Linked DNA regions of Homo sapiens: regions 1 and 3 are each linked to region 2. Evidence: fine-mapped expression QTL. A gene starts in region 2. Each other region holds a variant in brackets. All regions are shown on one strand. Distances are from middle to middle. Region 1 overlaps IGF1R (insulin like growth factor 1 receptor). Region 2 holds the start of PGPEP1L (pyroglutamyl-peptidase I like). Region 3 overlaps IGF1R (insulin like growth factor 1 receptor).

Evidence for each region. PIP is the estimated chance that this variant, and not a neighbour inherited with it, causes the effect.
Region 1: its variant is fine-mapped to the expression of PGPEP1L in prefrontal cortex (GTEx, PIP 0.92).
Region 3: its variant is fine-mapped to the expression of PGPEP1L in hippocampus (GTEx, PIP above 0.99). The same link has a PIP of 0.9 or more in lung.

The regions. Positions count from the first base shown.
Region 1 is chr15:98,962,905-98,971,737 of GRCh38, forward strand. IGF1R (insulin like growth factor 1 receptor) reads left to right here. Exons shown (of 21, transcript NM_000875.5): 21 at 1-1,626. PGPEP1L (pyroglutamyl-peptidase I like) reads right to left here. Exons shown (of 5, transcript NM_001167902.2): 3 at 8,132-8,254; 4 at 6,521-6,747; 5 at 5,325-5,793. The coding sequence starts at 6,729. The coding sequence ends at 5,574. Among named protein-coding and RNA genes, the nearest start is that of PGPEP1L, 40 kb to the right of the region's middle. The variant G/T (reference allele first, on the strand shown) is at 4,627.
Region 2 is chr15:99,003,417-99,013,868 of GRCh38, forward strand. PGPEP1L (pyroglutamyl-peptidase I like) reads right to left here and starts at 4,376. Exons shown (of 5, transcript NM_001167902.2): 1 at 3,943-4,376; 2 at 2,013-2,240.
Region 3 is chr15:98,950,801-98,961,137 of GRCh38, forward strand. It overlaps IGF1R (insulin like growth factor 1 receptor), which reads left to right. Exons shown (of 21, transcript NM_000875.5): 21 at 6,261-10,337. The coding sequence ends at 6,642. Among named protein-coding and RNA genes, the nearest start is that of PGPEP1L, 52 kb to the right of the region's middle. The variant CCT/C (reference allele first, on the strand shown) is at 7,058.

The DNA of each region.
Region 1 (8,833 bases), 41 kb before region 2:
TTTAGCGTTTTGTTTCTGCGAGAACATAACGATCACTCATTTTTATGTCCCACGTGTGTGTGTCCGCATCTTTCTGGTCAACATTGTTTTAACTAGTCACTCATTAGCGTTTTCAATAGGGCTCTTAAGTCCAGTAGATTACGGGTAGTCAGTTGACGAAGATCTGGTTTACAAGAACTAATTAAATGTTTCATTGCATTTTTGTAAGAACAGAATAATTTTATAAAATGTTTGTAGTTTATAATTGCCGAAAATAATTTAAAGACACTTTTTTTTTCTCTGTGTGTGCAAATGTGTGTTTGTGATCCATTTTTTTTTTTTTTTTTTAGGACACCTGTTTACTAGCTAGCTTTACAATATGCCAAAAAAGGATTTCTCCCTGACCCCATCCGTGGTTCACCCTCTTTTCCCCCCATGCTTTTTGCCCTAGTTTATAACAAAGGAATGATGATGATTTAAAAAGTAGTTCTGTATCTTCAGTATCTTGGTCTTCCAGAACCCTCTGGTTGGGAAGGGGATCATTTTTTACTGGTCATTTCCCTTTGGAGTGTAGCTACTTTAACAGATGGAAAGAACCTCATTGGCCATGGAAACAGCCGAGGTGTTGGAGCCCAGCAGTGCATGGCACCGTTCGGCATCTGGCTTGATTGGTCTGGCTGCCGTCATTGTCAGCACAGTGCCATGGACATGGGAAGACTTGACTGCACAGCCAATGGTTTTCATGATGATTACAGCATACACAGTGATCACATAAACGATGACAGCTATGGGGCACACAGGCCATTTGCTTACATGCCTCGTATCATGACTGATTACTGCTTTGTTAGAACACAGAAGAGACCCTATTTTATTTAAGGCAGAACCCCGAAGATACGTATTTCCAATACAGAAAAGAATTTTTAATAAAAACTATAACATACACAAAAATTGGTTTTAAAGTTGACTCCACTTCCTCTAACTCCAGTGGATTGTTGGCCATGTCTCCCCAACTCCACAATATCTCTATCATGGGAAACACCTGGGGTTTTTGCGCTACATAGGAGAAAGATCTGGAAACTATTTGGGTTTTGTTTTCAACTTTTCATTTGGATGTTTGGCGTTGCACACACACATCCACCGGTGGAAGAGACGCCCGGTGAAAACACCTGTCTGCTTTCTAAGCCAGTGAGGTTGAGGTGAGAGGTTTGCCAGAGTTTGTCTACCTCTGGGTATCCCTTTGTCTGGGATAAAAAAAATCAAACCAGAAGGCGGGATGGAATGGATGCACCGCAAATAATGCATTTTCTGAGTTTTCTTGTTAAAAAAAAATTTTTTTAAGTAAGAAAAAAAAAGGTAATAACATGGCCAATTTGTTACATAAAATGACTTTCTGTGTATAAATTATTCCTAAAAAATCCTGTTTATATAAAAAATCAGTAGATGAAAAAAATTTCAAAATGTTTTTGTATATTCTGTTGTAAGAATTTATTCCTGTTATTGCGATATACTCTGGATTCTTTACATAATGGAAAAAAGAAACTGTCTATTTTGAATGGCTGAAGCTAAGGCAACGTTAGTTTCTCTTACTCTGCTTTTTTCTAGTAAAGTACTACATGGTTTAAGTTAAATAAAATAATTCTGTATGCATTTCTGTCTCTGGTTTGGTTTTGTCCCTCCTGGAAGCATCACTACACTTTGGTGGCAGGGAAGCTGAGCTATGTGGGGCACGTGTGTTCACGCATGTTGCCTGGAAGCGTTCTCCAGAAAAGCATTGCCTCTTCTCTGACAGCTGAGCTTTCTCAGCATGCAGATTGCCAGTAAAGACGACAGGGAAGCTATCTGTTTCTCCCTCCATTAAATCATCTGGAAAGAAATTTGAATACATAAATTACGAAACTCTGTACTGCAGTTCCGACTGATTTGTAGACTTTTTTCCTATACCTTCCACTAACAACAGTCAGGCCAAGGCAAGTCTGATCTGCATGACCCCAAGGCAGAGGACTTCAGTTCTTCACATTTCCCATGTGCTTTTTGGTCTTTCACAGCTGACATGCCCACCTCGGGGGGATGCTGGTGAGAACCCAGTGGGCCTCACGCAGAATGTGGGTCACTGGAGGAGCTCCAAAGTCCTAGTTACTTTCTAGCTGCTGCTCAGTGATCTCTGTCTGCCCCTAGGGACCCTACAATGTAAACATTATTTTTGTCAGGGGAAATGGCATGTATGGCAAGGTGTGTTCTAGAATCAGACTAAGGATTCAGACACATCAGGCAGAGAAGCTGGTCATTTCCTTCAACTTTATCATGGGAAATTATGCTCCAATAGCAAAATCGGGCCAGTAGAAGAAGAGCTGTCCAGCAATGTATAGGTAGAAGTAAACCGAAGACCATGGTTACTTCAGACCTGTTGAGCCTCAGAAGTGTTTGCACCTAAAAGCAAAGGCCTTTCTGAAAGGGGACTCTCAGCTGGGGTGCGGTGGCTCACGCATGTAATCCCAGCACTTTGGGAGGCTGAGGTGGGTGGATCACATGAGGTCAGGAGTTCAAGACCAGCCTGGCTAACATGGTAAAACCCCATCTCTACTAAAAATACAAAAAATTAGTGGGACATGGTGGCGGGTGCCTGTAATCCCAGCTACTTGGGAGGGTGAGGCAGGAGAATCTCTTGAACTCAGGAGGCAGAAGCTGCAGTGAGCCAAGATTGTGCCACTGTACTGCAGCCTGGGTGACAGAGTAGGACTCTGTCTCAAAAAGGGTACTCAAGCTTGGCATTGCTTCAGGGTTACTGCTCAGTGTTGTCACCGAGTGCCTGGCACTCAGGGGATCTTCATTAGGTGACTGATGATGAGGAGGTCTCAATTCTGAGGCTGGAAAGCCCAACAGGGCCTCCTCCTTCCCTGGTCAGGTAGATGCTGCCCTTCCAGGTTGCCACAGTGCAGTCTGCACTTGGCCTGCCCAGCCAGAAGGAGCAGCAATATCTAAGGATGAAGGTGCTGGGTCTTCAGAAGCATTAGAACCTTTCCCCTCCAGGCCATTTCTTAAGACTGCAAGCCCTCAAGAGCTATTTCTGCATTTACCCCCCAAGTCCAGGTATGAGTCCATACTCACTCAGATGTGTGATTTTTGTAGTGTTCTAATGTTGCTAAAAAGACCTTCACATCCATTCTCTCACCAGATGTTCACAATCACCCTGCAAAGGAAGGATTTTAATTACTCTTACAGATGAGCAAACATACAGGCATGCTCAAGACCCCTCCCCCGCCCCCCCACCTCCCCACCAGCTACCAACTCAGGACTCAGCCTCTCAGCCTTTTCTGCTGTGGTTCTCAATCTGGCTTCAGCACTGCCAGAACTAAGCAGGCTCTGTGCATACTGACAAGGGATGCTGGGTGAAGTACACAGCCCAGGTGTGAATGAGACTTCTGGGGTTCTCCCTGGAGAACTTCAGGGGCCACAGCGGGGGGAAATGATGGGGAAGTTCTTGAAGAGGGAGCTCTGGGCCTCCCAACTGGATAATATCTAAAAATTTAAAAAATGTTATGGCATGCTGCCAGGCAGTCTGAAATATAACACTGGAGCCCAGTCCTGGGGGCCCCTTGCTTGCCAGTGTCCTGGGACAGAATTGCCCATAGCAGAGACAGATCTCCACATTAGCAACCATGCAGCCAGACCTGTGCACACCGCCCAGCACCACCTCCCCCCATCCCCCAATATGTGGGCTTTGATCTGTTTTCTAGCAAATGATCCAGGTGTACTTGCAAAGGGAGTCCCCTAAAGGCTACTCCAAATGCAAAAAGCGTGCTGGCGGCCTTGACTGCTTCCTTTGGTTTTCTTGTGGGTTTTTGTTTGTTTTTTTTTTTTTTTTTGAGACACAGTTTTGTTCTTATTGACCAGGCTGGAGTGCAATAGTGCAATCTCGGCTCACTGCAACCTCCGCCTCCTGGGTTCAAGCGATTCCCCTGCCTCGGCCTCCCAAGTAGCTGGGATTATAGGCACCCACCACCACACCCGGCTAATGTTTTTGTAATTGTAGTAGAGACTGGGTTTCACATGTTGGTCAGGCTGGTCTTGAACTCCTGGCCTCAAGTGATCCGCCCACCTCAGCCTCCCAAAGTGCTGGGATTATAGGTGTGAGCCACTGCGCCTGGCCTGGTTCCTTTGTTAGGAAGCTGCAAATGCTTTTCTTAATAGTGAATGAATCCAAACACTAACTGATGAATTTTTTAAATGTAGTCAAGTGAAAAATGGTAGTTGTAAGCACACCAACGTAACAAGAAATTTCCCAGAGCTCACCTACCTTCACTCACTTCCTCCAAAAAAAAAAAAAAAAGCGATGTTACCAATGGGACTCCCAAAGGAAATCTGCCCCTAGAAAACACTGAACAGGTAGAATCTTGCTGGGAGAAGCTTGGCACAAGACCCGGTGCTGTGTCATAAAAGCAAAACAAAACATGAAACAGAAAGGAGATTCTGCTTTTAAAAAGGGAAGACACCATGGAGAGAAGCTAAGCCCGGCTATTAACCTGCGCCTTCAAACCAAACACTACCAGTGTGACTGTAAAATGGTGCAGCCCCTGTGCAAAACAAAATGGCAGTTCCTTAAAAAATTAAACACAGAATTAGCATTGAATCCAGGAATTCACCTCTGGA[G/T]ATTGACCTGAAAGCAAGGACTCGGATACATATTTGCACGCCAGTGTTTGTAGCAGCATGATTTGCAAGAACCAAAAGGAGCAAGTAACGTAAGTGTTCATCTACAGCTGAATGGATGAAATGTGGTCCATACATACACTGGAATATTATTCAGCCTTCAACAGAATGAAATCCTGTCCCATGCTACAACATGGATGAACCTGGAGGACATGAGGCTGAAATAATACGCCAGATGTAGAAGGACCAGCGCCGCATGACTCCCTCATATGAGCTACCTACAGTCAGATTCATAGGGATGGAGGGTGGAGTGGTGAGCACCAAGTGCTGGGAGGAAGAAGGAATAGGGAGTTAATAGGTACAGAGTTTCAGTTTGGGATGAGGAGAAAGTTCTGGAGATGGATGGTGGTGATGGTTGTACAACAAGGAAATGTACTGTATACTACTGAACTGTATGCTTGAAATTATTAAAATGAGTAGTAAAAGGGGCAAACACAGAGACAGAGAAATCATACAGTAGAGCCTCGGTGGCTTCGAGGCTACCCAGGACCTGGACACACAAGCTCAAAGGCCAGGAATGGGGTCCCTGGAGCAGCGGCTGTCTCTGTGCTTCTGTAAGCATCTCCAAAACAGGTCTGTGGTCCCCACAGTCTGCGCAGGATCACACAGACCCACTGTGTAGATTTTTGGAAGAAAACAGATGACTCGGATTTCATTTTATTGTCATGAAAACCATAACTGAAGCTAGTTCATCCCCTGTGAAATGTCCACCTTTCAGAGTGTTCTTTCTCCTGACAATAAAATAACCCTTTGTGATTTTGTTGGGCTAATTCAGAGTTTTCCACCCTCTTTGTCTTACAAGCAATTTTTGAAAAAGTTTCTCAATGCACAGTTGAGTGCTACATACAGGATTGAAACATTCAATTTTCTCTAGAGGAGCAATCCCCCGGTCAGTTCCCTTTGGCTGGAAGGACCATGGTTGAGTTTTCTTCGAACTGGGCTCTGTGCTTGGGCTTTCCCACCTCTTCCAGCATTTCCTGGATGATGACTCTCAAGGCTCTTCCCAGCAGGCTGGCCGGGAGCCCGCGCGATAGTGGAGGGACATGGATGAGTGCCGCGCAGCCCTTTCCATGATGCAGAGACAGGTAATAGGTATAATCACAGACGTATCTGCAACCACAGGAAATGCCACATTAATTCTCGGACCAGCCTCTAACCTCAGTGAAACATACGCAGAAGTGGCAATGCAACACCCACAAAGCCTGAGGAGGGAGCACTGCCACCCAAGGGAGACTTGTGTTGTTTCACCTCAGAAAGAACATGGTGCCAGGATGAGCTGGGGAGAGCTGGCTCTTGGCCTCATGGCCTCATGACCGGCAAGTGGCCAAGGCAGAAAGGGGTCAGATATTCCACAGCACCTGCATCCCAGTGAATCCCTCTCATTCATGTCTTCGTTGAGTCACTTACTCATTCATTCACTGGGGAAAGGGGAAAAACCACCTACTGGGGATCGGAGTTTGGAGAAACAAAGGTAAATCAATCTTTATCTGGGGCTACATCAACACAGTTAACTCACAACTTCGGTCACCCCAAAAATCAAAATCAGAAAACATTCACGAAATGTTAGTGGCTCTTGAAGTCTGCCTTCCCATCTCTTCTCCTAGATCAACACACCAAAGACCGTGTTTCCACAGGCAGGTCTCACAAACGAGACCTCAGGCAAGGTGTGAGCAACTGTGCTGGCCTGCACACAGCAAAGAGGGGCAATCTGGGGGCGGCACCGCATGGCCAAGTGGCCAGCTGGACGATACAGGATGGCTTCTTGGAGGTCGGGGGGACGCTGACGGCCATTGCTTCTCTCCTACCTGCTCAGAGTCCTGACACCCACAGAGCATACCTGCCTGCATCTCGGGAAAAGATCACGTCGACACCCTCCACAGCTACGCGCTTGCAGACTGCCTTCATGCAGACCCCTGACTCCAGCACGTCTGGGCTGCCAGGTAGGCACACGCCGCCCTCGGGCCAGAAGCTGCGGATGTCGGCGTCCCGGTAGCCTTGGTTCTTGCCAGACTGTTCCAGAATGATCGCCTTGGCGGCGGTGTCCATGCCCACATGCACGACGAGCTGTGTGAACGGGTAACAGCAGAGAGAACCCAGGAAAACGAGGCCCACCCTGCTCACCAAATGTGCAGAAGGGGCCACTCCTTTTGAGAGCCCGGCTCTGTGCAAAACATCTCAAACCCCAAATCCACTGGGAAACCCCAGGATCCCCCACCAGTGTCTCCTAATTAATATGGCTGGAAAGAAAAACAGCTGGATTCTTTTAGCTGAATAAAAACTCATGCTGCATTTACATTTAAATGCTTTTTACTTCAAATTATTCTTACAGGGTAATGTATTCTCTTTTTGTGGGGGGAGGGTTGGAGGGAGGAGAGGCAAGCTAGTAAGTGGTGAGGCTACCACAGCAGAGTCTTCGTGTTTTGGTGGAATCCTGAATCTTTTTATTTTATATTTTATTTATGTATTTATTTATTTTTATGAGACAGAGTCTGGCTGTATCACCCAGGCTGGAGTGCAATGGCACCATCTCAGCTCCCTGCAACCTCTGCCTCCCGGGTTCAAGTGATTATCCTGCCTCAGCCTCCCGAGTAGCGGGGACTACAGGTGCACCACGCCCAGCTAATTTTTGTATTTGTAGTAGAGATGGGATTTCACCATGTTGGCCAGGCTGGTCTCAAACTCCTGACCTCAAGTGATCCGCCTGCCTCGGCCTCCCAAAGTGCTGGGATTATAGGTGGGAGCCACCGTGCCCGCCTCCTGCATCTTTTTTTAAATGAAACTTTAATAAAGGAAGTTAGTGGCCATCCAGTGAAATCTTCTTAGAATTTATTCAAGCTGATTATTTTTCCTTTTTGAAAAATAGCTGCCCAAGTATGTTATCAAAACATCTGGGGCATTGTCTGAATGGCTTGATAGTGTATGTTTTATTAACCTCATCACATCTGGTCCTTGTTTGGGGTTTTTTTTGGGGGGGTGGGGTTGTATCTGTTTTTTATACAGTAATTATGTCCAGATAAAATGGGCTCGTGCTATGAAGATGGGCCTCCCCTAGGCTGGCCACCCTCCCAGTCGCTCCCTGGGCACAGAGGTCCTTGCCTCACGTCCACCTTCAAACCTACCTGCCCCTCATGGGTATGTGTGGGGCCCAACCCAAGGGCCTCTCCCTTAGGTGGAAACTATTTTTGAGTCCTGGCTGGGAATAATACTTCCATTTCTTTTCCTCCTCCTTTCTCTCCAGATTTTCTATTAAGATCTAATCCATATTTTGGCTTAAACTTTTACAAACAGACCCAGAACCTTACACAATCAGCTGGGACCTTGCATGACTGGTGGGGCCTGGGGACGGGGTGCCCCTCAACCATCAACCCTAGAACCAGGACCCGGGGGTTCAGAGGCTCCAGCTCCACATCGCCAGTCCCATGCCCCACTGCCTCTGGCCATCACTTACTTGCGGCTGATGATCTTCCCAGATTCCGGTGACCCTCCGCTTAGCCTCCCTGTAATCTACAGGCAGCTCCAGAGTCCGCAGCTGCACCACTGTTTCATTCCCCAGGCCCAGCTTGGAGAGCTCCTGAGGAAAGCGGCAGGTGGACTTGCCTCAGTTGATGGGGGGGGGGGGGGGGTGGGCACCAAGAGTCCCTGAAAACCCAATCCTTGGGGTCTACTTCCAGGGGTCTTCCGCAGCCTGGACTTTGCCCTCAAGGAGCTCACAAAGTGGCAAGGGGCCAAGAAGAGAGCCACAGTTCCTACCAGAGAGGCAAATGCACACAGCAGCACCTGTCTGTAATCCCAGCTACTTGGGAGGCTGAGGCAGGAGAATCACTTGAACCTGGGAGGTGGAGGTTGCAGTGAGCCGAAATAGTACCACTGCGCTCCAGCCTGGGTGACAGAGCTAGACTCTGTTTCCAAAAAAAGAAAAGAAAAGAAAAATCCAAAGTGTGAAGGAAAAAAAACCCACCAACAACAATACTGTACCCAGCAAAGCTATCCTTCAAACATGAAGAAGAAATAAAGACTTTCCCAAACAAAAGCTGAGGAAATCAATGCCAGACCTGTCTTACAAATCTAAAGGGTTCAACTTGAAAGAAACAGATACTAACATGTAACAAGAAAACTTCTGAAGGTATTAAACTCACTGGCACAAGTAAGA
Region 2 (10,452 bases):
TTGGTCAGCCCCCAGTGCAACTTGCAAACGGAGCTGGAGAAATCTTAGAATTCTGAGAGGCCCGTGGGAGGGATGCACGTTTTCTCACTCTTGTGGTTATCGTTGGTGCCAGTCTGAACACTTTGATCTCGAAGCAATTTGTCGGAGCCCTCGTTCTCCCACCATCTGTCTACATGCCAATTGTCTTGAGGAGATTTACACACGAAGCAAATCCAATTAAATGAAGAGACTGCCCCTGGCAGCTCTAAGCATTTCTAACACAGGAAGGCCACGCTCTGGAATCCAGCGGGCATTCCCAAATCATGGCTGATTATCAGGTATTTCATCAAACAATTTCCAGTTTGCCAGCAAACCACAGGCTGACAAGACAAAGGCAGGGGTCAGTGTGATTCTAAGATGGTGCTTCAATGTTCATATTTCATTCATGACAAGCATTGCATGCATTAGAGTACAGTTTCCTTAGGAATTCAAGAGTAATTTGAACCATTCAATCTCCAGAACCAAAATAACACAAATAAGAGCAAGGGAGATAAAAGGTTTCCCAAAGAACTTTTTCTCTGAAGGTCGATAGGAGTTAGAATTATAGTCTGAAAAGATTAAGCGACACAACTTTCAATTTCCCATTCATCCAGGAAACCCTGCCTCTTCATCCAACACAATTCAGAAAACTTAAAACCGGCCAAATGTGTCTAACTAAAAATGAAGGCTGGACATGATGGCTCATGCCTGTAATCCCTGCATTTTGGGAGGCCAAGGCGGGAGGATCACTTCAGCCCGGGAGTTAGAGACCAGTCTGGGGAATACAGGAAAACCCTGTTTCTACTAAAAACTAAAATAAAATAAATTGGGGGGTGTGGTGGTGAGTGCCTGTTGTCCCAGCTACTCCAGAGGCTGAGGTGGGAGGATTACTTGAGCCCAGGAGTTTGAGGCTGCAGTGAGTTATGACTGAGCCACTGCACTCCAGTCTGGACAACAGAGGGAGACTGTCTCAGAAAAATTAAAAATATAAAAATAAAAATAGGGCCAGGCGCAGTGGCTCATGCCTGTAGTCCCAGCACTTTGGGAGGCCTAGGCGGGCAGATCACAAGGTCAAGAGATCGAAACCATCCTGGCCAACATGGTGAAACCCCATCTCTACTAAAAATACAAAAATTAGCTGGGCGTGGTGGTGCGTACCTGTAGTCCCAGCTACTCGGGAGGCTGAGGCAGGAGAATCGCTTGAACCCAGGAGGCGGAGGCTGCAGTGAGCTGAGCTTACGCCACTGCACTCTAGCCTAGCGACAGAACAAGACTCTGTCTCAAAAAAAAATTAATAAAAATAAAGACCTTTGTGAAGATCAGGCCCCCAGGGACCAGCTGGGATGCTGACTTGGTGAGGCAAGTGTGGGTGGGGGTGACTCTGGATGTGCTGGTGTTTGCAGGAGTGAGCAGCCACCATTCCTTCCAAGTTGACCTTCTGGGGCTCAGGGTCTCCAGCTAGTGGCTCTCGGGGGGTGCTTCACAGCTCCCTGAAAAATGGAAGTTCTTACTCTGGAAGTGGGGACTGTGTGTTCCTTTGCGGGTGGCTGTTGTAGATGGGTTTGCAAGCCTTGTGAGGGCCCTGTGGTTTCTGGGCGTATAGATCCCTCTTCCTTGCTATGAGCCTGCACCCCCAAGGGATACCTCACGTGCCTCGGGCCCCACTCAGGGAAAACAGGTACCAGCCTCAGCTTCCTCCCTGCTGGGTTGAAAGGCAAGGTCTGAGCCTAAGCCACCAGTGGCACCTTCGTGCCCGCCACTCGAGAGTTACTTGAAGCGAATGAGCCACAGAAGCAGAAATGCCTGTGATCCTGATTGTTTATTAATAGGGCACAGCAGCAAGTTCGTTTCCATCTGGAATTATTAGCACCACCAGTTGCCATTCTTTTTTTCCCTCAGGGAACTATTTAAGACCCAGGATCAGGCCAGTGCGCATTCCAGGGGCAGGCTAAAAGCAGCAACAAATAGGAGAGAAAAAAATTATGTAGTCTTACCAGTCACCACCACGCAGCTGGGCTGGGAATCCATGAAGACGAAGTGGGAGCTCGCGCTGCGCCTCCCTGGCTCAGGCAGCGGCCCAGCGGCCGGGCTCTGCGCGCTCTGAGCTCCGGGCACCTTCTCTGCCTGGCCGCGTGCTCGCCGGGGACCGGGGTGGAGCGGGAGCCCAACCCCTCCTGGCCGCCCGGCGTCCGTAGCGTTCTGGGCCCCGAAAGGCCAAGGATCTAGGGGAGGGTGATAAAGCAATGCCCCTTGAAAGCAGAACGATCCAGCTCAGGACAGCGGGTTGGAGCGCCAGCAGGGACTTTCTGGACATTTGAGTCTGGGTCACTTTGTTGTTCAGGATGGTTCAAAGGTGAGCTAAGGGTTTGGCTACCAGCTGTCCCGGTTTGCCTGGGACAGAAGGATGTCTGGGACGGAACACCACATGGTGCTCAAAGAGGTACTGTCCTAGGAACTGTGGGCTACCCTACAAGTCGTTTACTTAGATCTTATTTTTTCCTCTTTAGTAATCCCTGCCAGAGCCCCTCATTGTGTTTGGCCATTATGATTTGGTAAAATTTGATTGCTCTGAAAACTAATTCCACAAAATATGTGAGATGTGAGCAGAAAAAAAAGAGAGAAAACCATAGATGAATCTTATGGCGCCTGCCTTTAAAATATTGATTGCAAGCACCGCTGCCTAGGAGCTGTGGGTCCTCAGGGAAGTTAACCTCTGTGCTCAGGTTTCCTGTTTTGAGAAACGAGGATCGCAGCACCGGATCCTGTATGGATTCTTTCTGTGCCCCAGGCACTGTCCCCAGCTTCATCAGCCCTGAGGAACAGAGGCTTGCCACCTAGCTAGCGTCTGTGCAAGCTTGCTAGCTCTGTGCTCACCACCCTGCGTTCTACCTGCGAAAAGTGCTTTCTTGACACTGTGCTGGACTCCTTAAACATGCCACTGACAGTGAGCCACAGCCGTGGCATGCCACCTGGCTCTGCAGACAGTCCTCTTTTTAATGTGTCAGAATAACTGAAAAAGGCTAACATTTGAGGCTATTTCCTCTATCGAAAAAGCTGTTTTCCAATATCTTGATCTTTCGGAGAATTCTATTTAAAAACAAAACAAACTTTTGGCCAGGTGCACTGGCTCACGCCTTTAATTTCAGCATTTTGAGAGGCCAAGGTAGGAGGATAGCCTGAGGCCAGGAGTTCAAGATCAACCTGGGCAACGTGGCAAGACTGCATCAATTATTTTTTTCAAAACGTGGTATATGCCCATAGTCCTGGCTTCTCAGGGAGGCTGAAGCGGGAGGATCACTTGAGCCGTCAGTCGTAACTGCACCTCTGCACTCCACCCTGGGTGACAGAGTGAGACCCTGTCTCTAAAAATATTCTTAAACTTTTTTTTAAACTGAAAATACTTTTTTCCTGAAGCTGTATATTAAGAGGAAGAAGACCCATGATTCTCTGTCCCCATCTAGGTCTGGGGAGGAGAAGCTCCCTTCAGGGAAGCAGGCAGAGCCTCTCAAGCACCCTGCGGCCTCTAGAGAGCTCAGTGTGACAGCAGGACCACGTGGCTCCATCTGCTGAATTGTCCTCCTGATATAAAGCGCTCCCTTTTAATTGGGATCACCCCCGCGGATTAGACCCCCCTTGGTGGCTTTCTGGGATTCTGAACCAGGAACAATTCCCTTTAATTAGCTCCTGGTGTGGGCTGCAGGCCTCTTCACTGCCAACAGGTGGGAAGCGCCATTTGCTCCCACTAGTCTCCCACTCCCTGTCCTGAGAAGCTGGGCCCACCTTGCCATGAGTGGGATGCAGAGGATTTTTGTACTTTGCCTCATTTCACAGAAGTTACCCGGTTTCTCAATATACCCCGGATGCACTTGTAGACTTGGTCTCTACCTCCTCTGGTGAGCAGCTCTCCTAGCTCCTATCACTTACCTAGTTCCGTCATGGTGTGTCCAGAATCGGCGGATTCTTGGTCTCACTGACTTCAAGAACGAAGCCGCGGACCCTGGCGGTGAGTGTTACAGTTTTTAAAGGCAGCGTGTCCCAAGTTTGTTTCTTCTGATGCTCGCATGTGTTCGGAGTTTCTTCCTTCTGGCAGATTCGTGATCTCGCTGACTTCAGGAGTGAAGCTACGGACCTTCATCATGAGTGCTACGGCTCTTAAGGTGGCGTGTTTGGAGTTATTCGTTTCTCCCGGTGGGTCCGTGATGTGGCTGGCTTTAAGAACGAAGCTGCAGACCTTCACGGTGAGCGTTACAGCTCATAAAGGCAGTGCGGACCCAAACAGTAAGCAGCAGCAACGGTTATTGCAAACAAGCAAAACAACAAAACTTCCACAGCACAGAAGGCGACTCCAGCAAGTTGCTACTGCTACCTGGGGCAGCCTGCTTTTATTCTCTTATCTGGCCCCACCCACATCCTGCTGATTGGTCCATTTTACAGAGAGCCGATTGGTCTGTTTTACAGAGAGCTGATTGGTCCGTTTTGACAGGGTGCTGATGGGTGCGTTTACAATCCTGGAGCTGGACACAAAAGTTCTCCACGTCCCCACTAGATTAGCTAGATACAGAGTGTGGACACAAAGGTTCTCCAAGTCCCCACCAGAGTAGCTAGATACAGAGCGTCGATTGGTGCATTCACAAACCCTGAGCTAGACACAGGGTGCTGATTGGTGTGTTTACAAACCTTGAGCTAGATACAGAGTGCCCATTGGTGTATTTACAATCCCTTAGTTAAACATAAAGGTTCTCCAAGTCCCTTCCAGACTCAGAAGCCCAGCTGGCTTCACCCAGTGGATCCCGCACCAGGGCCGCAGGTGGAGCTGCCTGCCAGTCCTGTGCAGTGCGCCTGCACTCCTCAGCCGTTGGGTGGTCGATGGGACTGGGTCCTGTGGAGCAGGGGGCGGCACTCGTGGGGGAGGCTCAGGCCGCGCAGGAGCCCATGACGCGGGGGAGGAGGCTCAGGTATGGCGGGCTGCAGGTCCCGAGCCATGCCCCGCACGGAGGCAGCTAAGGCCCCGCGAGAAGTCGAGCACTAACAGCTGCTGGCCCAGGTGCTAAGCCCCTCACTGCCCGTGGCCGGCGGGGCGGGCTGGCTGCTTGGAGTGCGGGGCCCGCCGAGCCCACGCCCACCCGGAACTCGCACTGGCGCGCAAGCGCGGCGTGCAGCCCCGGTTCCCGCCCGCGTCTCTCCCTCCACACCTCCCCGCAAGCTGAGGGAGCCGGCTCTGGCTTTGGCCAGCCCAGGAAGGGGCTCCCACAGTGCAGCGGCGGGCTGAAGGGCTCCTCAAGTGCCGTTAAAGTGGGAGCCCAGGCAGAGGAGCCGAGAGTGAGTGACGGCTGCGAGGCCTACCAGCATGTTGTCACCTCTCAGTGGGGGCTTGGCTTCCTCTGCACAGTTAAAGGAAGAGATTGGACCATTAAGAAATGCCCACTTCTTCTTTTTTTTTTTTTTTCAGATGTAGTCTCGCTCTGTTGCCCAGGCTGGAGTGCAGTGGCGCGATCTCGGCTCACTGCAGCCTCCGCCTCCCAGGTTCAAGCAGTTCTCTCCCTCAGCCTCCGGAGTAGCTGGGATTACAGGCACCTGCCACCAGCCCTGGCTATTTTTTGTATTTTTAGTAGAGACAGAGTTTGACCATCTTGGCCAGGCTGGTCTTGAACTCCTGACCTCGTGATCCACCTGCCTCGGCCTCCCAAAGTGCTGTGATTACAGGCGTGAGCCACCGCGCCCGTCCAGAAATGCCCACATTTGTAAAGTTGGTTGCTGCTAGGGTCCAACTCTGCTATCAACATTCACCTATGAGGTCTGGGAATGGGAACTTGTGTTTAAGGAGACTCCTTAAGTGCAAAGACTGCCCATCTTTAACCATACTACTTTTCTGATAACAAAGCTGAAATTTTCATCATTTTTTTTTTGATTTGACAGGAGCTATTATTTTAACTAAACTGGAATGTGTCCTGCAGTTTTCACTTTCCCATAATTCACTTATTTTTTTCTGTTCTAAAGTTTTCTCTAATTTTGAAATTAATAGAAAAAACAACACAAAATATTTTACTTAGTCACAGTGATATGTCTATTTTTGTATTCATTCACCTCCCCTCTCCCCACACAAGAACCCCCCAGCACATTCCTACTTTCTGGAATGAAAATAGCTCTGAGAAGTATGGATTTTGAGGTTCAACATCTGCACTTTTATTTCTTTTTCCATTGTAAAAACAAATGGTCTCTAATAATTGATGTCAAACACAGTCTTTAGGCTGATGAAATACAGTAAGCCTGAGAACGAATAAGGCAACTAAATGGAGCTGTTTTATTTAACAGAGAGCACAGTGATCTTCCTTACAAGCGGGATTCCCGAGAGGAAAATGTTTGTAATCAGATTTGACTCTAGGATTAAGAGGGCAAGGTGCGACCCTCTTAGTGAACCGGAAAGTAAGCAACGGTACACAAGTGTTCTCACCAGGGACAGCAAATGGGAGTTGCCAAGATTACAAGATCCCAAGACCTCAACTATTTCACGTGCTGAACTAAACTCAAAACTTTGTGGGATTTGTTTTAAATTTCTCATTGGCAAGTGGTGACTTCCTGCTCTCGCAAGAAAAAAGATTAAAGGGGTTTGTTTACTGTCTCTGACACAAACAGCTCTTACAACACATTTTGTACACTTGACATAAATGAAATTTAATCAAACTGGTCAAATTCCTTTGGGAGGTGGGGAGAAAATAAATCAATCAGCAAGAAGCACTTGTGATTTCCAAAATAATGATAACATAAGTCTTTCTCCATGTCAAACATCACTGTTTCCAGATAAGCGACTTAGCTCTACTATAAAACACAACCCATAGCCAAATTGCTTCTTGTCAAAGCACTAAGGGATCCTCCAATAATGTCACTCTACCAAGGCAGATTCAGAACTCACCCTCCTCTATACCTCTGCCTCTGCAGCTTTGTACCCCAGCAGGGGCCAGCCAGCACACGATTTCTGAAAAGGGCCATAAAATAAATGAATAAATGTAGTAGACTTTTTTTTTTTTTTTTTTGAGACAGGGTCTCACTCTGTGGCCCAAGCTGGAGTGCAGTGGTGCAATCTCGGTTCACTGCAACCTCCGCCTCCCGGTTCAAGCAATTCTCGTGCCTCAGCCTCCTGAGTAGCTGGGATTACAGGTGTGCACCACCACACCCGGCTAATTTTAGTAGTGCCTGTAGTCGCAGCTAATCGGGAGGCTGAGGGAGGAGAATGGCGTGAACCTGGGAGGCAGAGCTTGCAGTGAGCCGAAATCGCATGCTGCACTCCAGCCTGGGCGACAGAGTGAGACTCTGTCGCAAGGTGATATTTCTGTTACATTTTGTAGGAGAAGGATTTGTCTTTATTTTTCTTCTGTCTTATATTTTTCCCTCAGACTTTTGCTAAGCCTTGATCACTTTTTTTTTTAGGGACTACAGCTCCTTGACTGCAAAGTAACAACTGTTGCAAAAGGAAGTTTTCTACTTGTTAAAATCCAGTAGCTTGTTACCCCTATTGTTTAAATACTGGATTTTTCTTTCAAATTTCACAAATATCTTAGGAATGACTGGAACATTTGTGTTCTTAACACTGAGGAAATTCCTGTGTAGACAAATGAGGCCAGATGGAGGGTGCAGCAGAGAGCTTAATATCCTCTTGGAATGGAAGAGGGGCCACACTAAAACATGCACCAGGCCTTCGAGGGGCCGCTATTTTCCAGTATACACATGTAAGAGGCATTTTTCTTTTTTTCTTGACTGGGGCCAAAGGTAACTTTCGTGTCAGAAGTGAGTGCTAAGTGGCTGAGTAGGTTTGAGGAAGGCTTAGCGATCCAGCTTATTTATAGACAATCCGATTATAATATTTATGATCATTGATTTTTAAAAATTACTGGACCTCTTAAAAATGGTTAGATATGAGACTGGTATATACTGAAGCTAATAGCTTTCTCTTTTTAAAGAGATAGTGTTTCTCTCTGACGACACACAGGCTGGAGTGCAGTGGCACTGTCAGAGCTCACTGCATCCTCAAACTCCTGAGCTCAAGCGATCTTCCTGCCTCAGCCTTCTGTGTAGCTGGGACCACAGGTGTGTGCCACCATGCTTGGCTAATTTTTCAATTTTTTTTTTTTTGTAGAGATGGAGTCTTGCTATGTTGCTCAGGCTGGTCTTGAACTCTTGGCCTTAACCAATCCTCCTGCCTTGGCCTCCCAAAGTGTTGGGATTACAGGTGGGAGCCACCTCTCAGGGCCTAAGAGTTTTCTTATATATCAGCAATAACTAATTCTAATGTAATTGGAGAAAAGAGCCCATCCACAATGCCCTTCAAATATCAGAAATCTCTAGGAATAAACCTGGCAAGAAATGTATGAGATCCTTTTGTGGAAAACTGTGGAACTGGCGGGGTGCGGTGGCTCACGCTAGTAATCCCAGCACTTTGGGAGGCCGAGGCAGGTGGATCACCTGAGGTCAGGAGTTCCAGACAAGCCTGGCCAACATGGTGAAACCCTGTTCTCTACTAAAAATACAAAAATTAGCTGGGCGCGGTGGCTCACGCTAGTAACCCCAGCACTTTGGGAGGCCAACGCAGGTGGATCACCTGAGGTCAGGAGTTCCAGACAAGCCTGGCCAACATGGTGAAACCCCATCTCTACTAAAAATACAAAAATTAGCCAGGTGTAGTGGTTCATGCCTGTAATCCTAGCTACTTAGGAGGCTGAGGCAGGAGAATCACTTGAACCCAGGAGGAGGAGGTTGCAGTGAGCCGAGATCGCACCATTGCACTCCAGCCTGGGCAACAAGAGTGAAACTCTGTCTCAAAAAAAAAAAAAAGAAAAAGAAAAGAAAAAAGAAAAGAAAACTGTGGGACTTTAAGAAAAAAACATAGAAGACCCGAATAAAACAAAGGATGCCATGTTCTGTAATGGGAAGATTCGAAACTTTAAAAATGTTAATGCAAACCGATGTTAAAGACTAGATGCAACTGGCTTGCCTTCCCAGATATCCAAATATATGCTAAAAGCTAGGGTAATTAAAATAGTGCAGTGTTGTTGTAGAAATAGGAAAACTGTCAATAAAACAGCTAGAATGTGTATGAGAATTTAATATATAGTTAAAGAGATAATTCAAATTAGTAGCGGAAAGAATATACCATTTAATGGTGTGGGAACCATGAGATATAGCTAGATCCATTCCTTATGCCATATAGGTCAGTAAATTATGATTGGATTAAAATTCAAATCTGAAAATCAAGACAGTAAAAATACTGGAAGTAAATTTAGAAGAATTATTTTCTAGTTTTGGAGTAGTTTCAAAATACTCATGCGAGACGCAAAACTCAGAAACTAAAAGGAAAAGAGGAGGTATTTGACTAATACTGACTTTGGATATAGGAGTTGAATGAGAAGCAGGGAACTTTTCAGTTCATTATTCTTTATATATACTGTATACACACACACACACATACATATTTTAAAAGAACTGTTCAAGCTCTATACATGTAATTTTTTTTTTTTTTTGAGACAGAGTCTCGCTCTGTTGACCAGGCTGGGGTGCAGTGGCGCGATCTTGGCTCACTGCAAGCTCCGCCTTCCGGGTTCACACCCTTCTCCTGCCTCAGCCTCCGGAGTAGCGGGGACTACAGGCGCCCGCCACCACGCCCGGCTAATTTTTTTTGTATTTTTAGTAGAGACGGGGTTTCACCGTGTTAGCCAGGATGGTCTCGATCTCCTGACCTCGTGATCCGCCCGCCTCGGCCTCCCAAAGTGCTGGGATTACAGGCATGAGCCACCGCGCCCGGCCCTATACATGTTATTTTTTAAAAACAAGAGAACTTTAAAAAATGTAACAAAAACGTACATCAAAAAATGTATACTTCAGACCTTGAAGAAATATATTCTACATTTTTACAGCAGACATTAATGAACCTTTAGTCCTGTGTGCCTGTGGCTGACTGCCACAATTACTACTTGAGACCGTCACTATGACAGTTATTACCGTTACTACTTGAGACCGTCACTACGACAGTTATTGTTACTACTTGAGACCGTCATTACAGGACTGAACGAAAGGACAAACGTAGAAATGATTAAAGAAATCTGTTTTAAAGGAAGGGGAAACCGGGAAGAAGGGAGCTCCCTGCTTCTAGTGAGCGAAGGCAGCCCCCCGAGCTTCCACAGCCCTTCGCATTCATTGGGAGAATGAGCAGGGAGGAGGCCCTAAGACTGGTCAGCTGTTTGATTATCACAAGTTCTCATTACTAACAGGCTTCAGTTGTGTCTAATCCTAAACACTTGCACCTGGGTGGTGACTGCCCTCAGCAGTCCTTCTGGGCGGCAGACACAGGTTGTCAGTTTGCCAACACCCTGCTCTCATGAGAAACAGTTTGCTGCTTACTCACGTGGCCTCCAGTGGTATACTGAGTTGATCACGACCCTCAAT
Region 3 (10,337 bases), 53 kb before region 2:
GGGATATTTACACCAGGGGCAACGATCTTGGGGGGCATCTTAGAATTCCATAGTCTCAGAAATCATTGTCCCTAATCAAACAATCAAGGTGCTATTTTTGTTTCAAAGCACTTTGAGTGTTGCTACAAATACTGAATCCCTAAGCTCCTTGTAAATGGCCGGCCAGCGGAGGGCATGGGGTGGGGAAGACTGGATACACACCCCTGTGCTCTGGGAGTACGTTGGCTGGGCGGCATGCTCATTAGCTGCTGCTTCCGAACATAGGTTCAGCTGAAGTGTATCCCAGGCAGTGGACACTTCGTGTGGAATTCAGAAAGGTGGCGCAGGAAGGATACCAGGGAAAGCCAGAGTGAAGGCATCACCCTTGCACAGCTAGCACATGTGGGGGCTCCCATTGTCCCATCAAGGCAGGGCCAGAACCAGAAAGTCGGCTGGTGCCCTGGGCCTGGGCCAGTGATGGGAGGCTCCTCTTCTCTGAGGGTGGCACCTACAGATGCAGTGGCACTGGGTTTCCTGGAGCCCTCATCAAGGAAACTTCCCAGCATGGCCTCTTCAGAACTCCACAATCCAAACTTGGAAGAGACTCGAAAGACCACTTAGTACCTTTTCTTGCCCAGTATAGAAATTCTTCTTCTCCCCTTCTGTGTTAGTTTTTTATCGCAGTATAACAAACTACCCAAAACCTACTAGTTAAGAGCAACAGTAAACATGTATTATCTCTCAGAGGTTTCTGAAGGCGAGGAACGCAGGAGCGGCATAGCTGGCTGGCTCTGGCTTGGAGCCCTTCTCGCGGTTGCAGCCCAGCTGTCCGCCGGGGCTGCAGTCATCTGAAGGCTTGCCTGGGGGAGGCAGACCCACTTCCAAGGTGTTGCTGCATAGGTAGTATGCCCTGCATGAATCGCCCTGTTCTACGTGGGCCTCTCCGTAGCACTGCCCAAGTGTCTCAGGATGTGTAGCTGGCTTCTCTGAGTGCAGAGTTCGGCACACTCTTTCTCTAAAAGGCCGGCTAAAAAAATGTTTTTGGCTCTGTGGGCCCATACGACCTTGACTGTGACTACTGGACTCTGCCACTGTGGAGCAAACACAGCTGTGGGCGTCACATAAGCTAGCGTGGCTGTGTTCCAATACAGCTTTATTTTTAATACTGGAATTTGAATTCCACATCATCCCTGTGTTGTCACAAAATATTCTTATTTTGAATTTCTTTTAGCCATTTACATGAAAACCATTCTTAGCTCATAGACCTTGGAAAACTAGGCAGCAGGCCAGATTTTACCCACAGGTACATAGTTTGCCTGCTGTGCCCTAGAGTAAAAGATCCAGGACCTGAGCAGAAGGCACGACGTCCTTTCTGACCAAACCTCAGAAGTCACACTGAGGCTCTCACCTTCTCCTTCAGGTTACACCATGTGAGAGTCAATCACGTGGGGATGTGAGCTCCAGGACACAGGGGAGAGGACCACTGGGGATCCGGGAGCCTGGCTACCCCCCAGTACCCCACCAACACACACACACACACACACACACACACTGCCCCTCACAGGTGACCATCTGCTCCACACTTTGAGCAGCGCAGCCACTGTTTTCTTGCCAGCCATTATGAGAAAAATCATGCTTTCAAGTCTGAATATAAGCCATGGAGTAAGAGGTCTGATGACCACTGAATCTGCATAAAGGTACAGTGCTAGAATCTAGGCTAATACTAGAACTGGTGGTATTTTAGCAAGCTTAGAAACAGCCCATGAAAGCAGGTGTGAGTTCTGCTTCTGTGGTTTAGGGTGGGTGAGGGAGAGCGGTATTGTTCTGTGCTTTCTCTTTGACTCGGGTAAACGTTTATCTACAAGAGACTTGTGGGATTCTTACTTGGTCCACCTCCAGGTGACTGGGCTTTTACTATTAATGTAAACTGCCTGGGACGCAGCCCCTGCCATGGGAAACGCAGGGCACTTCCTGTTCTCAGCATAGAGTGACAAGGAAATTTACTCAGAGCGGTTACTCTGACATTCAATGTTTAGTTCAGGAGGCATTTCTGCTTTGCCATCGAGAATTTTTCTCCCTTCTAAGAAAATGTTTTCTCCTGAGAAAATTTTTCTCCCTTCCAAGAAAAGAGTAGAATGAAAGGAGGCAACTTGGTTTCATAGGGAGTGTCATGTTGTCCTTCTGAGTTTACTGATGAGCTTACCTGAGAAAGGAGGGTTCTAGCATGGGAGTTCTGTTGCTACAAGACATGAAAGAATGGCCTCCGTTTATCCCGGAGAGGAGAGTCCCTGAGCCCTTGGGAGTTGCCTTGAAACCTCTGCCGGGTCCCAGGTGAGAAAGTGTGTGAGTTGTGTGGTTCTGAGATCTGAACAGGCACCATCTGGTGACACTAGGGGCTGAAGGAGCTCGGTGGCTGCAGGTGGACTGGAGCTCACCATCAGGAAGTAGCCAGATTCTCACCCCTCAGTGTCACCGAGTGTTCTGGCTTTAGAGGAAGGACTCCGTGGTCCCCAAGCCACAAGGTGTCGAGGTCTGAGTCTCAACGCCATGACTCAGTGTGAATTAACTTAGCAGGTATCACAACATCAGATTTGGGTTGTGGTTCCCTGCTGGGTCTGTACTTTAGATTGATGACAAAGCCCGTCCTCAGCCTTATTTCAGCCCAGATCTCGGTATTTATGCCACAGATACTGTTGAGCTCCTCTGGGTGCGTGCTGACCCTGAGGTCACACAGATGAGCCAGGAGTGGCCCTGGCTTTCAGGAAACGTAGTGACGTAAAAGGTCCCGGCTGCTGCGGGATAAGGGCCAGGGCAGAGGTGTGAACGCAGCCGTGGAAGACTTGGGCCAGGAAGCCATTTGTTCTGCTGCTAACACTTCCACAGCTCCACGTGTCCAGACTGTTGCCAGAGACGTCTTTGGTCTACAGGATTCAGGAGGGAATCTGAACTTTAGCCTGGAGCATTATCAACTCATAGATGAGTCTGAAACAAACTTAGTGAAATCTGATGTTTTTTGTAGTTTTCCAGTACAGTTTTTCCCATCGCTGGAATCCTGGTTTGGTTCTGCGGGAATCGAGTGCTTGAGTGGGACCCAGACAGACAGGAAGGGCGCTCCTGCTCAGTTAGCCCCAGTAAGCTCACTGAGGCACACAGGCCCCATGTCCACAGCCGCTCCTGGCTGAGGCGTGGTTCCTAAGACGACCCTTACTGTTGAGGGCTGCCAGGAGGGAGAGACACATTCAGCCCCGCAGGTCCTCTGGGAATCCGGTGAGCGTCGGCACCGGGCTGGGGCCGTGCTGATTCCCGGCAGCGTGTGGGAATGTGCGGGTGCCTCGTGGCCTGCTGACATCGCACACAGGTCACAGCCTGTCCAGTTCAGGACATCAGGGCCAAGAGTGAAGTGAGAATACGGAGGCACCTCTGTGTGCTCACCCTGCTGACCGTCACCCAGCCTCCGGGGGGGGTCACAGCTGGCCCCCAGGAAGCTGCTTCCCAGCAGGGCAGGAATTCCATTTGAGTCTTGTCCCTGTTCCAGGAGAAGGGCTGGGTATGTGTCCCCCAAAGGGGAGAGCATTCGAGAAGGATGGCGCCAGCCTCCCCAGAACTGACCTGTGGTTAAAAAAAAAAAAAAAATTGTGCTTTTTAAAAGATGAGTTTTATCAGCTCACACATCCTTCTAGAGTCTAATGGAGATTTTTTGTGTGTGTGGAAATAGTAAACAAGGTCTTGAATCCCACAGAGCAAAAAAGACTTCCTTTCATGGGCAGCACTGGAAGGGTTGTTACTCTGGAATGGTTTAAAAGAGGCGTCACATGGCTTGTTTGTGCTGATGTCACTGCCTCGCTGCTCTCCTGTGGCACCTCCTCGGTCCCTGGCCACAGGGCACAGAGCCAAGCACATCTCATGCTCTTGGCCCAGTTACGCTTCTGCCCAGGGGTAAGTCAGCTGGAGAGGAATTCACAGCCCAGGCATTTCATGTCGTTATGGCCTATTTTAATTTTTTTAACCCCAATCATTTTTCTTAGGAAGTGATGGGGAGTTTGGAAAGGCAGGCTTATTTGTCATCAAGCTGCCAGCTTTTATCAATGCAAACCACATCCCTGTGACATCTGTGACTGTTCCTTGGACAGTTAGGTGAGGGAGGGTCTCCTGGTGGCCCCAGGGTTACTCTTATTTAGGTTGAGAAAAATTCCTTTTTCCAGGATCGTTGGTGATCAAAGTGTAGTCATTCTGTTGCGCAGAGAACTCCATCCCAGCTCCACCCTCATGAATTTTGTAATCTTGGACAAATTATTTAGTATCTTAGTGCTTCTGTTCCCTCATCTGTAACATGGGGGTATATTATAGTCAGTAGCACCTGCTTCACAAACTCGTGAGGACTTCAGCAGTTCACACACATAACTGCCTCGCTGCCTGGCACCTAGCGTGCACATGGCATTCTACCGTGGGGTAGACTTTTAAAATTCTGGCTACAGAGATACTTTTCCATAAAAGTGGCCACATGGAACTCTCCAAATCTAAGAAGCATACTGTGGGGGCCTTCATATTTTGTCTAATTCTTTTCTCCCCAGAACAGGAACCTGCACCCTTCCTTCTTTTAAAGGGCGACGTGGTAAATAAACATTTTTAGACTTGCAGGCCACAGTCTCTGTCCTAATGTCCTCAGCTGGTAGTTGTAGCTGGAAAGCAGCTGCAGCCCACATGGAAATGAGGGAGCGTGGCCCCATGCCAGTGCAGCTGATGTAGAGGCGGGCAGCCCCGGGTTAGGCCCTGTGGAGACGCAGGCCCCCGGGCTCTAGAACGCTGAATTCTAGTGAATTCTGGATGGCTCTCCCTCACACCCAGGCCCACCCTCCCTCAAGGTTGCACCTTCTCCACCTGAAGGAAGCTGCCAGGTGGCCATAGGAGCCCTTCTCTTGGCAGGCCAGCTTCCAGGCCCAGTGGCTTCTCTTACATCAGGGGCCTCCCCTTGGAATGTTCCCTGAAGGCCAGACACGGGCAGGTAGTCTGTGGTCAAGCAGCCACCCTGACAGGAGGCTAGATGCCACTGGGTGTGCTTTGAGTTTCCTAGATGTGGAGAGTTCTGTGTGGCCACTTTTATGGAAAAGCATCTCTTTAGCCAGAATTTTAAAATAAAGAGGATAACTTCCTGGTGAGAACAGACGTGGAAAGGAAGGCACTTTGGTTTCACGCTCATGTAAGAGAGGGCTGTTGGCGGTCACTCCTCAGAACTATGGCCAGCCCTGGATGGTAGCCAGCTGCTTTTTGCCCCAAAAGTCTGTTTAGCTGGGTCTCTGCATTCTGGAAGCTTGTCAAAGCCCGGGCCTTTCCTGGGTCAGGGCAGCCGGCTTTCCTTGTCCACGTGTGGCCGGCTGTTTTCTTGGGGAGCCCCGGCCACAGCCGGCAGGACTCCCTTTGCTCCATGTGACTCTGAGGGCCTCACAGGTATTTGCAGCCCAGGTGCTGTCGGAGCCCAGCCGATGCGACCGACACACAGCACAAGCGTCATCCTGTTCTGCCTGTCCCTTGCGTGTGGAGGGGACTCGTGCCCAGGGCTCTCCTTGCTGGCTTGTTGGAATCTGGCTTCAGGTCTACACGGGGCCTCTCGTTTGGTCCAGAACAGCCTGGCTCATCGGCTGGGGCTTGCTTGTGCAGGGCTGGAGCGAGCACGTGCTAGATGGAGACAGCAGACTCGGAGTGTGCATTTCTTCGTGTTGCAAGCCTGGCCTCACAGTGCCTTCTTCCTTTGGTTGTCTGCCAGGGGTAGCCCTGCACCAGGAGGAAGCTTAGAAATAGCACAGGTGGGAACCGGAGAGAGAGCACTGTTGGGGAAGCTGCGGTCACTCATCAGCCTTCCTGGTGAGAAACCAGGGGTTTCCTGCTAATTCTGGAAAGGATGTTTCAGCAGTGCCTGCATGAGACGCCTCAGATAGAAAACTGGTTATTTTTGTTTCTTAGCACTGCCACCATAGATAACAGCTGTCACGATGGACAGTGTGGACCTGGATTAGTCCTTCTTGGGAAAGGAGAGTTTGGGTTTTGTACCGTGGTGGTTCTGGGTTCTGGGGGAAGAGAATGGAACCGTACGAGGTAAAACAGGAGACTCTGAAGGCCACTTGGCCATCCAGGCAGAAAGCCAGGGATGGAGAGGGGCAGCAGGGCTGTGTTCAGTGCTCCCGCCGTACGCTTGTATGCGGGAAACCACTGCAGGCGGCCCATGAAGCCTCCTGGCCATGTGCGCCCTCCCGGTTTGGACCCCCTCCCGTGTGTCTTGGCTGCAGGTTTGAACTGATGCGCATGTGCTGGCAGTATAACCCCAAGATGAGGCCTTCCTTCCTGGAGATCATCAGCAGCATCAAAGAGGAGATGGAGCCTGGCTTCCGGGAGGTCTCCTTCTACTACAGCGAGGAGAACAAGCTGCCCGAGCCGGAGGAGCTGGACCTGGAGCCAGAGAACATGGAGAGCGTCCCCCTGGACCCCTCGGCCTCCTCGTCCTCCCTGCCACTGCCCGACAGACACTCAGGACACAAGGCCGAGAACGGCCCCGGCCCTGGGGTGCTGGTCCTCCGCGCCAGCTTCGACGAGAGACAGCCTTACGCCCACATGAACGGGGGCCGCAAGAACGAGCGGGCCTTGCCGCTGCCCCAGTCTTCGACCTGCTGATCCTTGGATCCTGAATCTGTGCAAACAGTAACGTGTGCGCACGCGCAGCGGGGTGGGGGGGGAGAGAGAGTTTTAACAATCCATTCACAAGCCTCCTGTACCTCAGTGGATCTTCAGAACTGCCCTTGCTGCCCGCGGGAGACAGCTTCTCTGCAGTAAAACACATTTGGGATGTTCCTTTTTTCAATATGCAAGCAGCTTTTTATTCCCTGCCCAAACCCTTAACTGACATGGGCCTTTAAGAACCTTAATGACAACACTTAATAGCAACAGAGCACTTGAGAACCAGTCTCCTCACTCTGTCCCTGTCCTTCCCTGTTCTCCCTTTCTCTCTCCTCTCTGCTTCATAACGGAAAAATAATTGCCACAAGTCCAGCTGGGAAGCCCTTTTTATCAGTTTGAGGAAGTGGCTGTC[CCT/C]GTGGCCCCATCCAACCACTGTACACACCCGCCTGACACCGTGGGTCATTACAAAAAAACACGTGGAGATGGAAATTTTTACCTTTATCTTTCACCTTTCTAGGGACATGAAATTTACAAAGGGCCATCGTTCATCCAAGGCTGTTACCATTTTAACGCTGCCTAATTTTGCCAAAATCCTGAACTTTCTCCCTCATCGGCCCGGCGCTGATTCCTCGTGTCCGGAGGCATGGGTGAGCATGGCAGCTGGTTGCTCCATTTGAGAGACACGCTGGCGACACACTCCGTCCATCCGACTGCCCCTGCTGTGCTGCTCAAGGCCACAGGCACACAGGTCTCATTGCTTCTGACTAGATTATTATTTGGGGGAACTGGACACAATAGGTCTTTCTCTCAGTGAAGGTGGGGAGAAGCTGAACCGGCTTCCCTGCCCTGCCTCCCCAGCCCCCTGCCCAACCCCCAAGAATCTGGTGGCCATGGGCCCCGAAGCAGCCTGGCGGACAGGCTTGGAGTCAAGGGGCCCCATGCCTGCTTCTCTCCCAGCCCCAGCTCCCCCGCCCGCCCCCAAGGACACAGATGGGAAGGGGTTTCCAGGGACTCAGCCCCACTGTTGATGCAGGTTTGCAAGGAAAGAAATTCAAACACCACAACAGCAGTAAGAAGAAAAGCAGTCAATGGATTCAAGCATTCTAAGCTTTGTTGACATTTTCTCTGTTCCTAGGACTTCTTCATGGGTCTTACAGTTCTATGTTAGACCATGAAACATTTGCATACACATCGTCTTTAATGTCACTTTTATAACTTTTTTACGGTTCAGATATTCATCTATACGTCTGTACAGAAAAAAAAAAGCTGCTATTTTTTTTGTTCTTGATCTTTGTGGATTTAATCTATGAAAACCTTCAGGTCCACCCTCTCCCCTTTCTGCTCACTCCAAGAAACTTCTTATGCTTTGTACTAGAGTGCGTGACTTTCTTCCTCTTTTCCCGGTAATGGATACTTCTATCACATAATTTGCCATGAACTGTTGGATGCCTTTTTATAAATACATCCCCCATCCCTGCTCCCACCTGCCCCTTTAGTTGTTTTCTAACCCGTAGGCTCTCTGGGCACGAGGCAGAAAGCAGGCCGGGCACCCATCCTGAGAGGGCCGCGCTCCTCTCCCCAGCCTGCCCTCACAGCATTGGAGCCTGTTACAGTGCAAGACATGATACAAACTCAGGTCAGAAAAACAAAGGTTAAATATTTCACACGTCTTTGTTCAGTGTTTCCACTCACCGTGGTTGAGAAGCCTCACCCTCTCTTTCCCTTGCCTTTGCTTAGGTTGTGACACACATATATATATATTTTTTTAATTCTTGGGTACAACAGCAGTGTTAACCGCAGACACTAGGCATTTGGATTACTATTTTTCTTAATGGCTATTTAATCCTTCCATCCCACGAAAAACAGCTGCTGAGTCCAAGGGAGCAGCAGAGCGTGGTCCGGCAGGGCCTGTTGTGGCCCTCGCCACCCCCCTCACCGGACCGACTGACCTGTCTTTGGAACCAGAACATCCCAAGGGAACTCCTTCGCACTGGCGTTGAGTGGGACCCCGGGATCCAGGCTGGCCCAGGGCGGCACCCTCAGGGCTGTGCCCGCTGGAGTGCTAGGTGGAGGCAGCACAGACGCCACGGTGGCCCAAGAGCCCCTTTGCTTCTTGCTGGGGGACCAGGGCTGTGGTGCTGGCCCACTTTCCCTCGGCCAGGAATCCAGGTCCTTGGGGCCCAGGGGTCTTGTCTTGTTTCATTTTTAGCACTTCTCACCAGAGAGATGACAGCACAAGAGTTGCTTCTGGGATAGAAATGTTTAGGAGTAAGAACAAAGCTGGGATACGGTGATTGCTAGTTGTGACTGAAGATTCAACACAGAAAAGAAAGTTTATACGGCTTTTTTGCTGGTCAGCAGTTTGTCCCACTGCTTTCTCTAGTCTCTATCCCATAGCGTGTTCCCTTTAAAAAAAAAAAAAAGGTATTATATGTAGGAGTTTTCTTTTAATTTATTTTGTGATAAATTACCAGTTTCAATCACTGTAGAAAAGCCCCATTATGAATTTAAATTTCAAGGAAAGGGTGTGTGTGTGTGTATGTGTGGGGTGTGTGTGTGTGAGAGTGATGGGACAGTTCTTGATTTTTTGGGTTTTTTTTCCCCCAAACATTTATCTACCTCACTCTTATTTTTTATATGTGTATATAGACAAAAGAATACATCTCACCTTTCTCAGCACCTGACAATAGGCCGTTGATACTGGTAACCTCATCCACGCCACAGGCGCCACACCCAGGTGATGCAGGGGGAAGCCAGGCTGTATTCCGGGGTCAAAGCAACACTAACTCACCTCTCTGCTCATTTCAGACAGCTTGCCTTTTTCTGAGATGTCCTGTTTTGTGTTGCTTTTTTTGTTTTGTTTTCTATCTTGGTTTCCACCAAGGTGTTAGATTTCTCCTCCTCCTAGCCAGGTGGCCCTGTGAGGCCAACGAGGGCACCAGAGCACACCTGGGGGAGCCACCAGGCTGTCCCTGGCTGGTTGTCTTTGGAACAAACTGCTTCTGTGCAGATGGAATGACCAACACATTTCGTCCTTAAGAGAGCAGTGGTTCCTCAGGTTCTGAGGAGAGGAAGGTGTCCAGGCAGCACCATCTCTGTGCGAATCCCCAGGGTAAAGGCGTGGGGCATTGGGTTTGCTCCCCTTGCTGCTGCTCCATCCCTGCAGGAGGCTCGCGCTGAGGCAGGACCGTGCGGCCATGGCTGCTGCATTCATTGAGCACAAAGGTGCAGCTGCAGCAGCAGCTGGAGAGCAAGAGTCACCCAGCCTGTGCGCCAGAATGCAGAGGCTCCTGACCTCACAGCCAGTCCCTGATAGAACACACGCAGGAGCAGAGTCCCCTCCCCCTCCAGGCTGCCCTCTCAACTTCTCCCTCACCTCCTTCCCTAGGGGTAGACAGAGATGTACCAAACCTTCCGGCTGGAAAGCCCAGTGGCCGGCGCCGAGGCTCGTGGCGTCACGCCCCCCCCGCCAGGGCTGTACCTCCGTCTCCCTGGTCCTGCTGCTCACAGGACAGACGGCTCGCTCCCCTCTTCCAGCAGCTGCTCTTACAGGCACTGATGATTTCGCTGGGAAGTGTGGCGGGCAGCTTTGCCTAAGCGTGGATGGCTCCTCGGCAATTCCAGCCTAAGTGAAGGCGCTCAGGAGCCTCCTGCTGGAACGCGACCCATCTCTCCCAGGACCCCGGGGATCT